Linked DNA regions of Homo sapiens: region 2 is linked to region 1. Evidence: fine-mapped expression QTL. A gene starts in region 1. The other region holds a variant in brackets. All regions are shown on one strand. Distances are from middle to middle. Region 1 holds the start of AAMDC (adipogenesis associated Mth938 domain containing). Region 2 overlaps AAMDC (adipogenesis associated Mth938 domain containing).

Region 1 (5,000 bases):
CAGCTACTCGGGAGGCTGGGGCAGGAGAATCGCTTGAACCTGGGAGGCGGAGGTAGCAGTGAGCCCAGATCCTGCCACTGCATTCCTGCCTGGGCAACAGAGTGAGACTCCGTCTCAAAAAACAAATAAAAATAAAAAATATAAAAAAGAATGTAAATACAATTTGATAATGAAATTACTACAATGGGAGCTTAATTTTTAAACAAATTCTGTGAGAAGCCTTTATATAATGTAATTAGTCACCCTCCTATTTTGTACTATTTTTTAAATTAGCCTTTTGTAAGCCAGTTTGTTACAGGTAGAGGGAATGTGGACAGGTAAGAACAGATTACTAGGCTTATATTATAACTGCTGTATTAATTTGAGTCTTCGGTAGCCATAACATCATACAGATTCTTTATAGGTAATATTCTGAAGAACTTCATACTTGGCGCTTCCTAGCAATGCAAATAAATTCAGTTAACAGAAACTTCTTCATTTACATAGAGAATAGAAGAGCGACCCTGCTTTCTTGGAAAGGAAACAGCTATCTGTCTTGTACAATAACCAATCCACTTTGGCCAGCTAATATGGACAAAAAAAGAGACCTATTTGGAAAACGTTTCTTCTCCAGCCAAGGGCTGTTTCCAGATAAAGGCAATGCTCAGAGTATAACAAAAAAGCCTTCTCTGAGGAAAGAAAAGTGCCAGAAAAGGAGAGGCAGGGATCGGGAATAAATGGGGGTGAGTATAAGCACTCAGTGTGAAGGCTGGAGGCAGCAGGCGCAGCGCTGAGATGCTCCAGCAAAAGAACCAGCAGCAGCAGCAGGAAGTTTCAATGGGGCCGGGCAGAGCATGCGCCCTGCACCCGCGCGGTGGCCTTATGTGGAAGGAGCACCACTTGCGAACACCAATAATAGACCAGCGGCACCAGAGAGAGAAACATGAGCAACAAGCACCTTCTTCAACTGTTTCCCCCTCCGTCAGAGCCCCTCCTCCAGCTTACATACTAACCACCCCACCCTACCGTGCAAATGGGAGGGAGACGACTTCTTCGCCTAAGCCCGGCTGCCAAGATGAAGGGGGAAGGGATTGGAAAAGTGGGGAGATGCTCGCCTATTATTTTGGGGGAGGTGGGGAGAGGAAGGAGAACTATGGAGGAGGAATTAACCCTCTCCTCTCCACAGTGGAGCTGAACCGACTTCGCCCCCCTACCGAGAATGGAGAAGAACCCCCTCCCGTGGGGGAGGAGCAGACCTCCCCACTTCAAGGAAGGAGTTTTAGGGGTTAAAGCAGCCCTCGAGGGGAAGGGAAAAGGGACAAATCTCTCAGGGGAGTTCCCAACAGAGGGAGGGAGAGTTGAGTGTCCGCTGGCCCCCGCCCACCCAGGTGAAGGGAGATAAGGAGGTGTCCGGAGCAGCCGAGCCCAGCCTTCCCCGAGATGGTCGGGAAGACTGGTGGGAGGAGGGGAGGGAGTAAGGGTGGGGAGGAGGAGAAAAGCGCAAAGCTGGCCGGAACCTGCGCTCCCCTTCCCCCGCCGCCAAGGGGGAGACGGGGTGGGGGGCCGCCCTCCGCCGCGGAGAAGCAGTCCCCGGGGCTGCCGACCGGCACAATGACCCCTCCCCGCCTCCAGCCCACACCTAGCCCGCAACGCCTCCACCTCAGCTCCCCGCCCGGCCGAGTGGCCCTAGGGGGCCTCCGCCCCGCCTCCCCACTGCCCAAGACCCCGGGGGCTGGGCGGAGAAGACCAGCCCGGCGGAGTTGCGTCCCAGGGGGAAGACAGAGCCGCGGAGGCCCGAGCCGCGAAGAACCGGGGCGCCTGTGAAGAGCGGAGAGTAGCAGAGCGCCAGGGCCGCTTCCCGCCGGGCGTTCGGGCCCCTCGCTTACCTTCTCCGTTGCCGACGTCCGGCGGCGGCGCCTGCAGCACCCGCTCCAGCTCAGGGAACGGCAACTCAGGCAGGTCTAGCAGCGGCCCGTAGCGCTCCAAGAAGGAGCAGACTACGGCGAAGTTGGGGCACGAACCCGGGCAGCCCGGAGGAGCCATCACCGCCGCCGCTGCCGCCGCCGTCGCCATTTTGAACTGGAGGATGGAGGAGGAGGCGATGGGGGGGCGGGGGAAGTTGTGGTGCCGAGGGATGGCAAGGCAACCTTACAGACGACAGGAGGCGCTCTCAAGTGGGCTCCTCTGCGGATCCCAGCGTCTCAGGGACGGCTCCGCGATCCCACAATACATCGGCGGCCCGGAGCAGTCGAGAACCGAGTCAGACGGGAGACAGAGCGGCCCTCGGCGCCTTTCACTTTCCGCCCTCTTTCCGCCCCCTTCTCTCCTCCCCTTCGGGCTTGCCACTGCCTCGTGTGACAGGGGGAATGAAAACAAGGGAAGCGGGGCGGGGAGGCGGGCTGGAAGCGGGAGGGGCGGGACTTCTCGAGAACAATGGCCAATGGACGCAGAGGGGGCGGGGCCTCGGGCGCTGTTCAACTGCAGGGCGTATTCCCGGAGGGCAGTTGGGGAGCGCAGATCCCGAAGCAGCGCTGGGAGCGTAAGTGCGGGCAGAGCACTGCGCCGTTTGGGAACGCAACTTTGAGGAGACAGTGCGGTGGGTGAGTTTGCGGGGGAATCCTGAAACTGGGCCACGAGATGGTGGAGAGGTTGAGGAGAATTAATAAACAGAAAAAGGGAATAGGGCGGGGGAAAGCACAGTTGTGGGAGAAGGTTGGGAAGGGGAAAGGTAGAGGTGTGCCCTTAATTAGGGGCTGGGCTGGGACCTCGGTAAGATGTCTCTGTGGAAGTTTGCCGACGGGGTATTGCTCTCTGCTGGGGTACAGGAATCGCAGCTTTGCTGGAAAAGCAGGATCTGAGGGAACGGAACTCTGGGGGAATCGTCGGAGTGAGGAGTTGGGGCCCTGCTGGGAGAAGAGGATCTGAGGAGACCAGGCTCTGCTAGGGGGCCATGGTGTGAGGGGAAGGGGCTCTGTTCAGGGACCAGAATCGGAGTGTGGGCTGGGACTCCATTGAGAGGCGGAACATGACAGGAGACGGTGGAGCAGCGAAAAGTTTGTTAGAAGACAGGGTTCCACTTCGGGGCGGGGCGGGGGCAGTGAACATTCCCACAAAGAACGCCAGAGAGAAACTACCAATAATGTAAAATAGAATGTGCAGCCTGAGAAGCAGCAGTACACGTTATGCTTAGAAGCCTGAGCTTTGGATTCAGCCAGGCCTGAGTCCTAGCGGGGCTACTTCATGACACTGTGGAGGTTTCTTTATTTCTTTGAACTCCTTAGAGTGGGGTGATAATAGTACCTACATCATACGGTATTACTAGATAAATCACAGTAAAGTGATTAGCACAGTGCCGTAGCACATAGTGAGTACTTTAAAAATATTAGTTATCAAAAAAGGAGTTCCTATAATTTAGACTGAATTCCGCTATATTTATTTAGTCTATAATTTATTACTTTGAGAATTTTCTGAGTGCATTTAAAACTCAATGTAGTACCTAATTCCTAAAAAGAATTTGGCCGGGCGCGGTGGCTCATGCCTGTAATCCCAACACTTTGGGAAACCGAGGTGGGTGCATCACCTGAGCTCTGCAGTTCCAGACCAGCCTGGGCAACATGGTGAAACCCCGTCTCTAGTAAAAATAACGAAAATTAGCCGGGAATCCTTGGGAGGCTGATGCAGGAGAACCCCTTGAACCGGGGAGGCGAAGGTTGCAGTGAGTCGAGGTCGCGCCACTGCACTCCAGCCTGAGCGACAGAGCAAGACTCCACCTCAAAAAAAAAAAAAAAAAAAAAGAATTTGAAGCAAGGTACAACACAAACCATGTAAAAAAGAGAAATCTGTAATTATAGAAAGATAAGAAATAGATGGGCAAATAATTATATGAGTAACAGGGAAAATGGTCACACAAACACCGAATTTTTTTCTTCATTTCCAGGTTTTAAAAAGGGGAAAAACCATAAGGGTGTGTATTATTCCCATTATCTAAAGAAAGAATACTCAATTTATCAAGAGAAAAATTCTATATTGTAAGAAGAATTTATTGCCTTGAATAGTGATTCATAGTCTTGAGTGGTATACAAACCGTTTTTAAAGGAAAAAAGTTCTTTTGAAACTTGGCAAATACTTTTGAAAATTTCACTGTAAGAAATACTGATGTAAGAAATCAAAGTCTAAAGAACACTGTAAATGTACTTAATGCCACTGAAGTATACACTTAAAGTGGTTAAAATGGCATATTTTATGTTACATGTATTTTACGACAATAAAAAAGCTTTTAAGAAATTAAAATCCGCCGGGCGCTGTGGCTCACGCCTGTAATCCCAGCACTTTGGGAGGTCGAGACGGGCGGGTCACGAGGTCAGGAGATCAAGACCATCCTGGCTAACGCGGTGAAACCCGTCTCTACTAAAAATACAAAAAATTAGCCGGGCGTGGTGGCGGCGGGCCCCTGTAGACAGCTACTCGGGAGGCTGAGGCAGGAGAATGGCATGGACCCGGGAGGCGGAGCTTGCAGTGAGCCAAGGTTGTGCCACTGCACTCCAGCCTGGGCGACAGAGCAAGACTCCGTCTCAAAAAAAAAAAAAAAAAAAAGAAATTAAAATCCTACTTCAGGAAAATATCTTTATGGTTATGAATTATCACTGCCAAAGAAGTTTTAATTTAATAAGTCGGAAAATATTGTTTTTAAGCAATTACTGAAATGAAACACAAAACTAAACTAAAACATTTTTATAGAATTCCCAAACGGGCAAGTGTATATCTCTTGACCCTGGGGACCTGAAGACTCCAGTTTAAAAATAATCTGGGCGAGGTGGGGTGGCTCATGCCTGTAATCCAAGCACTCTGGGAGGCCGAGCAGGAGGACCCCTTGAGCCAAGGAGTTCGAGACCAGCCTGGGCAAGGTAGTGAGACCTCATCTGTAATCCCATGTAGTTGCCACTGCACTCCAGCCTGGGCGACAGAACTACACCCTGTCTCAAAAAAAAAAAAAAAAAAAAAGAATAATTTGACCCAGAATA
Region 2 (5,263 bases), 32 kb after region 1:
AAACTAAAGGAACTATGGAAATGTTTACCCCAACTTTTTATTTTGAAAAATGTTAAACCTACAGAATAGTTATGTGAATAATATAATACATTTCCATATATCCTTTACCTAAATCCTCAAGTTGTTAACATTTTACCATGTTTGTTTCTTTTCTCACTCTAAACACACACACACATACACACACATACACACACACACACACACACATACACTCACACTTTGTCCCCCTGTCATTTGACAATAAATCACAGATACGACATTTCAGTATTTCTCTCCTAAGGACATGAATATTCTCCTCTATAACTACAATTCTATTGTCAAAAACAAGGATATTATCATTGATACAATAATATCTTTTTTTTTTTTTTTTTTTTGAGATGGAGTCTCGCTCTGTGGCCCAGGCTGGAGTGCAGTGGCACGATCTCGGCTCACTGTAACCTCCACCTCCTGGGGTCAAGCAATTATCTGCCTCATCCTCCTGAGTAGCAGGGATTATAGGCACATGCCACCACGCCCGGCTAATTTTTGTATTTTTAGTAGAGACAGGGTTTCACCATCTTGGCCAGGCTGGTCTTGAACTCCTGACCTCGTGATCCACCTGCCTCGGCCTCCCAAAGTGCTGGGATTACAGGCGTGAGCCACTGCGCCCGGCCGATACAATAATATCTAATATACAGTCTGTCTTCAGATTTCCCCAGTGTCCCAAGAATGTTCTCTATAACTTTTGTTGATTCTCAGAGAATTGTACAATTGACCAGGCTAGAGTTTCTTCTGCTCAAGACAGTTCTTCTTAAGGAAAGATTGATGAGCTGTTCCTAGCTGTTCCTTGTGTTTTTGTTTGCTTTTGCTTTTGTTTTCCTATTCACCTTCTAAAGCTGGTTGTTGTGGAAGGCTGATATAGTTGGATATTTGTCCCCACCCAAATCTTTTGTTGAAATGTAATCCCCAATGTTGGAGGTGGGGCTTGGTGGGAGGTAATTGGGTCATGTGGGCAGTTCCCTCATGAATAACTTAGTGCTGTCTTGGTGATAGTGAGTGAGTTGTCAAGAGATCTGGTTATTTAAAAGTGTGTGGTACCTCCCCCAACCTTGCTCCTGCTTTCATCATATGACATGCCTACTCCCACTTCACGTTCTGCCATGGGTAAAAGCTCCCTAAGGCCTCCTCAGAAGTCAAGCAGATGCTGGTATCATGCTTGTACAGCCTGCAGAACTGTGAAGCAATTAAACCTCTTTTGTTTATAAATTACCATCTCAGGTATTTCTTTATAGCAAAGTAAGAAAGGCCTCTGTTGAACTTCTTGAATTTGAATATTTTCAAACTGTGATCCAACAAATTATAAAAGAAATAGAATAAACAGTTGCATACCATCAATTCAGATTCACTAGTTGTTAACATTCTGCCACATTTGCTTTATCTAGTCCTCTGTGGCCCTCTTCTCTCCTTCTCATAATTATTTTTACTAAATAATTTGGAAGTAGTTGTGGGCAGCCATAGTGGCTCACATCTGTAATCCCAGCACTTTGGGAGGACGAGGGACGAGATGGGAGGATCACTTGTGCCCAGGAGGTCAAGGCTGCAGTGAGCTTCACTCCAGCCTGGCCAACAGAATGAGACACTGTCTCAAAAAAAAAAAAAAAAAGAAGAAGAAGAAGAAGTTCAAAGAAAAAGAAAGAAAAAGTCACTGAAATTAATGATCATTTTTAATGTTGTCAATTTGACATACGGAATTTGGTTTATTTGTTTCTGTTGGCATACAATTTTAGATGCCTCCCATTTCCTGTCTGTCTTGATTTTAACTTTCTGAATCATGTAAAATATTTACATGATTCAGAATTCAAACTTCAAACTATGACAGTCACTTGCTGTTCACTATCACCAGAACAGCAAGAGAGATATCCACATCCATGATCCAGTCACCTCCCATCAGGTCCCTCCTCCAACACTGGGGATTACAATTCAACATGAGATTTGCGCAGGGACACAAATCCAAACCATATCATAGATACACTTAGAAAGTCTTATTCACCTCCCTATCTCTTCCATCACATTCCCACCTCACTCCATGTAGGTAATTATTTTGTATTAGTTTCCGGTTTATCCTTTTTTGTATTTTTCTGGAAAAAATAAGCAAATACAAAAATACATATATAAATAATTTTTTTTCTTTTTTTCCCATTTTCCATACGCAAAAGGTAGCATGCCTTACTTCTTTATATTCTGTTCACTTAATATATACAGAAAATCATGATATCAGTTCATAGAGATATGTCTTTTTCTTTTTTACCACTGTATAGTAACCAACTTTGTGAATGTAATATTGTTTATTCACTTTAGTCCTAAGGGATGGGTACTCGATTGCTTTCAATATTTTAGTACTATAAACAATACTACATTGAATAACCATGTACATTTTTTTTTGTATTGTTGAAAGTGTATATCCAGGGTAAATTTTTAGAACTGAGATTGTGCTTAAAGAGTAAATGTAAATGTAGATTTGTTAGATATTGCCAAATTCCCCTTTTTGGGGGTTGTACCGTATTTTAGTATTACTAACAATTTATGAAAAGGCCAATTTTAAAATGTAGAAATGTTTAAATTTGTTAGTAAAAGTGAACAGTATTTGTATTAGTCCATTCTTGCATTGCTATAAAGAACTACCTGAGACTGGTTAGTTTCTAAAGAAAAGAGGTTTCATTGGCTCAGGTTTCCATAGGCTGTACAGGAAGCATTGCTAGGGAGGCCTCAGGAAACTTACAATCATGGCAGAAGGCAAAGAGGAAGCTGGCATGTCTTACATGGCCAGAGCAGGAGGCAGGAGAGTGGGGAGGTGCTATATACTTTTAAACAACCAGAACTCATGAGAATTCACTCACTATCACGAGAACAGCAAGGGGGATATTGGCCCCATGATCTAGTGGCCTCACACCAGGCCCCTTCTCCAACACTGGGGATTATAATT[C/T]GATATGAGATTTGGTCAGGGACACAAATTCAAACCATATCATTCTGCATCTGGCCCCTCCCAAATCTCATGTCCTTCTCACATTTCAAATTACAGCCATGCCAGGCAGTGGCTCACCCCTGTAATCCCAGCACTTTGGGAGGCCAAAGTGGATGGATTGCTTCAGGTGAGGAGTTCAAGACCAGCCTGGCCAACATGATGAAACCCTGTCTCTACTAAAAATATAAAAATTAGCTGGGCATGGTGGTGCACCCCTGTAATCCCAGCTACTTGGTAGGCTGAGGCAGGAGAATTGCTTGAACCCAGGAGGTGGAGGTGGCAGTGAGCTGAGATTGCACCACTGTACTCCAGCCTGAGTGACAGAGTGAGACTCCGTCTCAAAAAAATAAACAAATAAATACAACCATGCCTTCCCAACAGTCCTCCAAATTCTTTTTTTTTTTTTTTGAGACAGACTCTCGCTCCGTTGCCCAGGCTGGAGTGCAGTGGTGCCATCTTGGCTCACTGCAACCTCCACCTCCCAGGTTCACACCATTCTCCTGCCTCAGCCTCCTGAGTAGCTGGGACTACAGGCGCCCGCCACCACACCCAGCTAATTTTTTTTGTATTTGTAGTAGAGACGGGGTTTCATCGTGTTAGCCAGGATTGGCTCGATCTCCTGACCTCATGATCCACCCGTCTCAGCCTCCCAAAGTGCTGGGATTACAGGCGTGAGCCACCGTGCCCGGCTATCCTCCAAATTCTTAACACATTCCAGCATTAACTGAAAAGTCCACAGTCCAAAGTCTCATCTCATACAAGGCAAGTCTCTTCTGCCTATGAGCCTATAAGATCAAAAACAGTTAGTTACTTCCAAGATACAATGGGGTTATAGGCATTGGCTAAATACTTCCATTCCAAAAGTGAGAAATTATCCAAAACAAAGAAGCTACAGGCCCATGCAAGTCTGAAACCCAGCAGGGCAGTAATTAAAACTTAAAACTCCAAAATAATATCCTTTGGCTCCATGTCTCACATCCAGGTAACACTGATGCAAGGGGTGGGTTCCCAAGGCTTTGGGCAGCTCTGCCTCTGTGGCTCTGCAGGGTGCAACCCCTGTGGCTGCTTTCGTGGGCTGGCATTGAGTGCCTGCGGGTTTTCCAGGTGCATGGTGCAAGCCGTTGGTGGATCTACCATTCTCATGTCTGGAGGATGGTGGCCCTCTTCTCACACCTCCATTAACCACTGTCCCAGTGGGGACTCTGTGTAGGGGCTCCAACCCCACATTTGCCCTCCATACTGCTATTGTAGAGGTTTTCCATGAGGGCTACGCACCCCCAGCAGACTTCTGCCTGGACATCAGGCATTTCCATACATCCTCTAAAAACTAGGCAGAGGCTCCCAAGCCTCAATTGTCACACTCTGTGCACCCACTGGCTTAACACCTCATGGAAGCCACCAAGGCCTATGGCTTGCACCCTCTGAAGCATCAGCCTGAACTGTACCTTGGCCCCTTTTAACCATAGCTAGAGCTGGAGTGGCCGTGATGCAGGGTGCTATGACCTGAGGCTGCACAGAGCAGTGAGGCCTTGTACCTGTCCCACAAAACCATTATTTCCTCCTAGGCCTCCAGGCCTGTGATGGGAGGAGCTACTGTGAAGGTCTCTGAAATTCCTTCCAGGAATTTTCTCCATTATCTTGGTTATGAATATTTGGCTCCTCTTTACATATGCAAATTTCTACAGCTGGCTTGAATTCCTCTCCTGAAAAAGTTTTGTTTTTTTCTTTTTTTGTTTTGAGACAGAGTCTCACTCTGTTGCCCAGGCTGGAGTGCAGTGGCGCGATCTCGGCTCACTGCAACCTCCACCTCCCAGGTTCATGCCATTCTCCTGCCTCAGCCTCCCAAGTAGCTGGGACTACAGGTGCCTGCCACCACACCCAGGTAACTTTTTCTTTTTTTTTGTATTTTTAGTAGAGACGGGGTGTCACCGTGTTAGCCAGGATGGTCGCGATCTCCTAACCTCATGATCCACCCGTCTTGGCCTCCCAAAGTGCTGGGATTACAGGTGTGAGCCACCACGCCTGGCCTTTTTTTTCTTTTATGCCACATGACCAGGCTGCAAATTTTTCAAACCTTTATAATCTGCTTCCCTTTTAAATGTAAGTTCCAGTTTTATGTCTTTTTTTTTTTTTTTTTGCTCAAGAATATGAGCATAGGCTGCTAGAGGCAGCCAGACCATGTCTTGAGTGTTTTGCTGCTTAAAAATTTCTTCCACCAGCCAAGTGCAGTGGCTCATCCCTGTAATCCCAGCACTTTGGGAG

What was found. PIP is the estimated chance that this variant, and not a neighbour inherited with it, causes the effect. A credible set is the group of variants that fine-mapping cannot tell apart.
Region 2: its variant is the best candidate, but not a certain one, in a credible set for the expression of AAMDC in whole blood (INTERVAL, PIP 0.67).

Annotation. Positions count from the first base shown.
Region 1 is chr11:77,818,663-77,823,662 of GRCh38, forward strand. It overlaps AAMDC (adipogenesis associated Mth938 domain containing), which reads left to right and starts at 2,482. Exons shown (of 4, transcript NM_024684.4): 1 at 2,482-2,579. RSF1 (remodeling and spacing factor 1) reads right to left here and starts at 2,060. Exons shown (of 16, transcript NM_016578.4): 1 at 1,866-2,060. The coding sequence starts at 2,052. RefSeq lists enhancers at 441-1,414, 710-819, 1,415-2,387, 1,940-2,109, 2,120-2,259 and silencers at 1,450-1,539, 1,680-1,769, 2,360-2,519.
Region 2 is chr11:77,850,600-77,855,862 of GRCh38, forward strand. All of the region lies in intron 2 of AAMDC (adipogenesis associated Mth938 domain containing), which reads left to right. It also overlaps a transcript of RSF1 not described here. Among named protein-coding and RNA genes, the nearest start is that of AAMDC, 32 kb to the left of the region's middle. The variant C/T (reference allele first, on the strand shown) is at 2,963.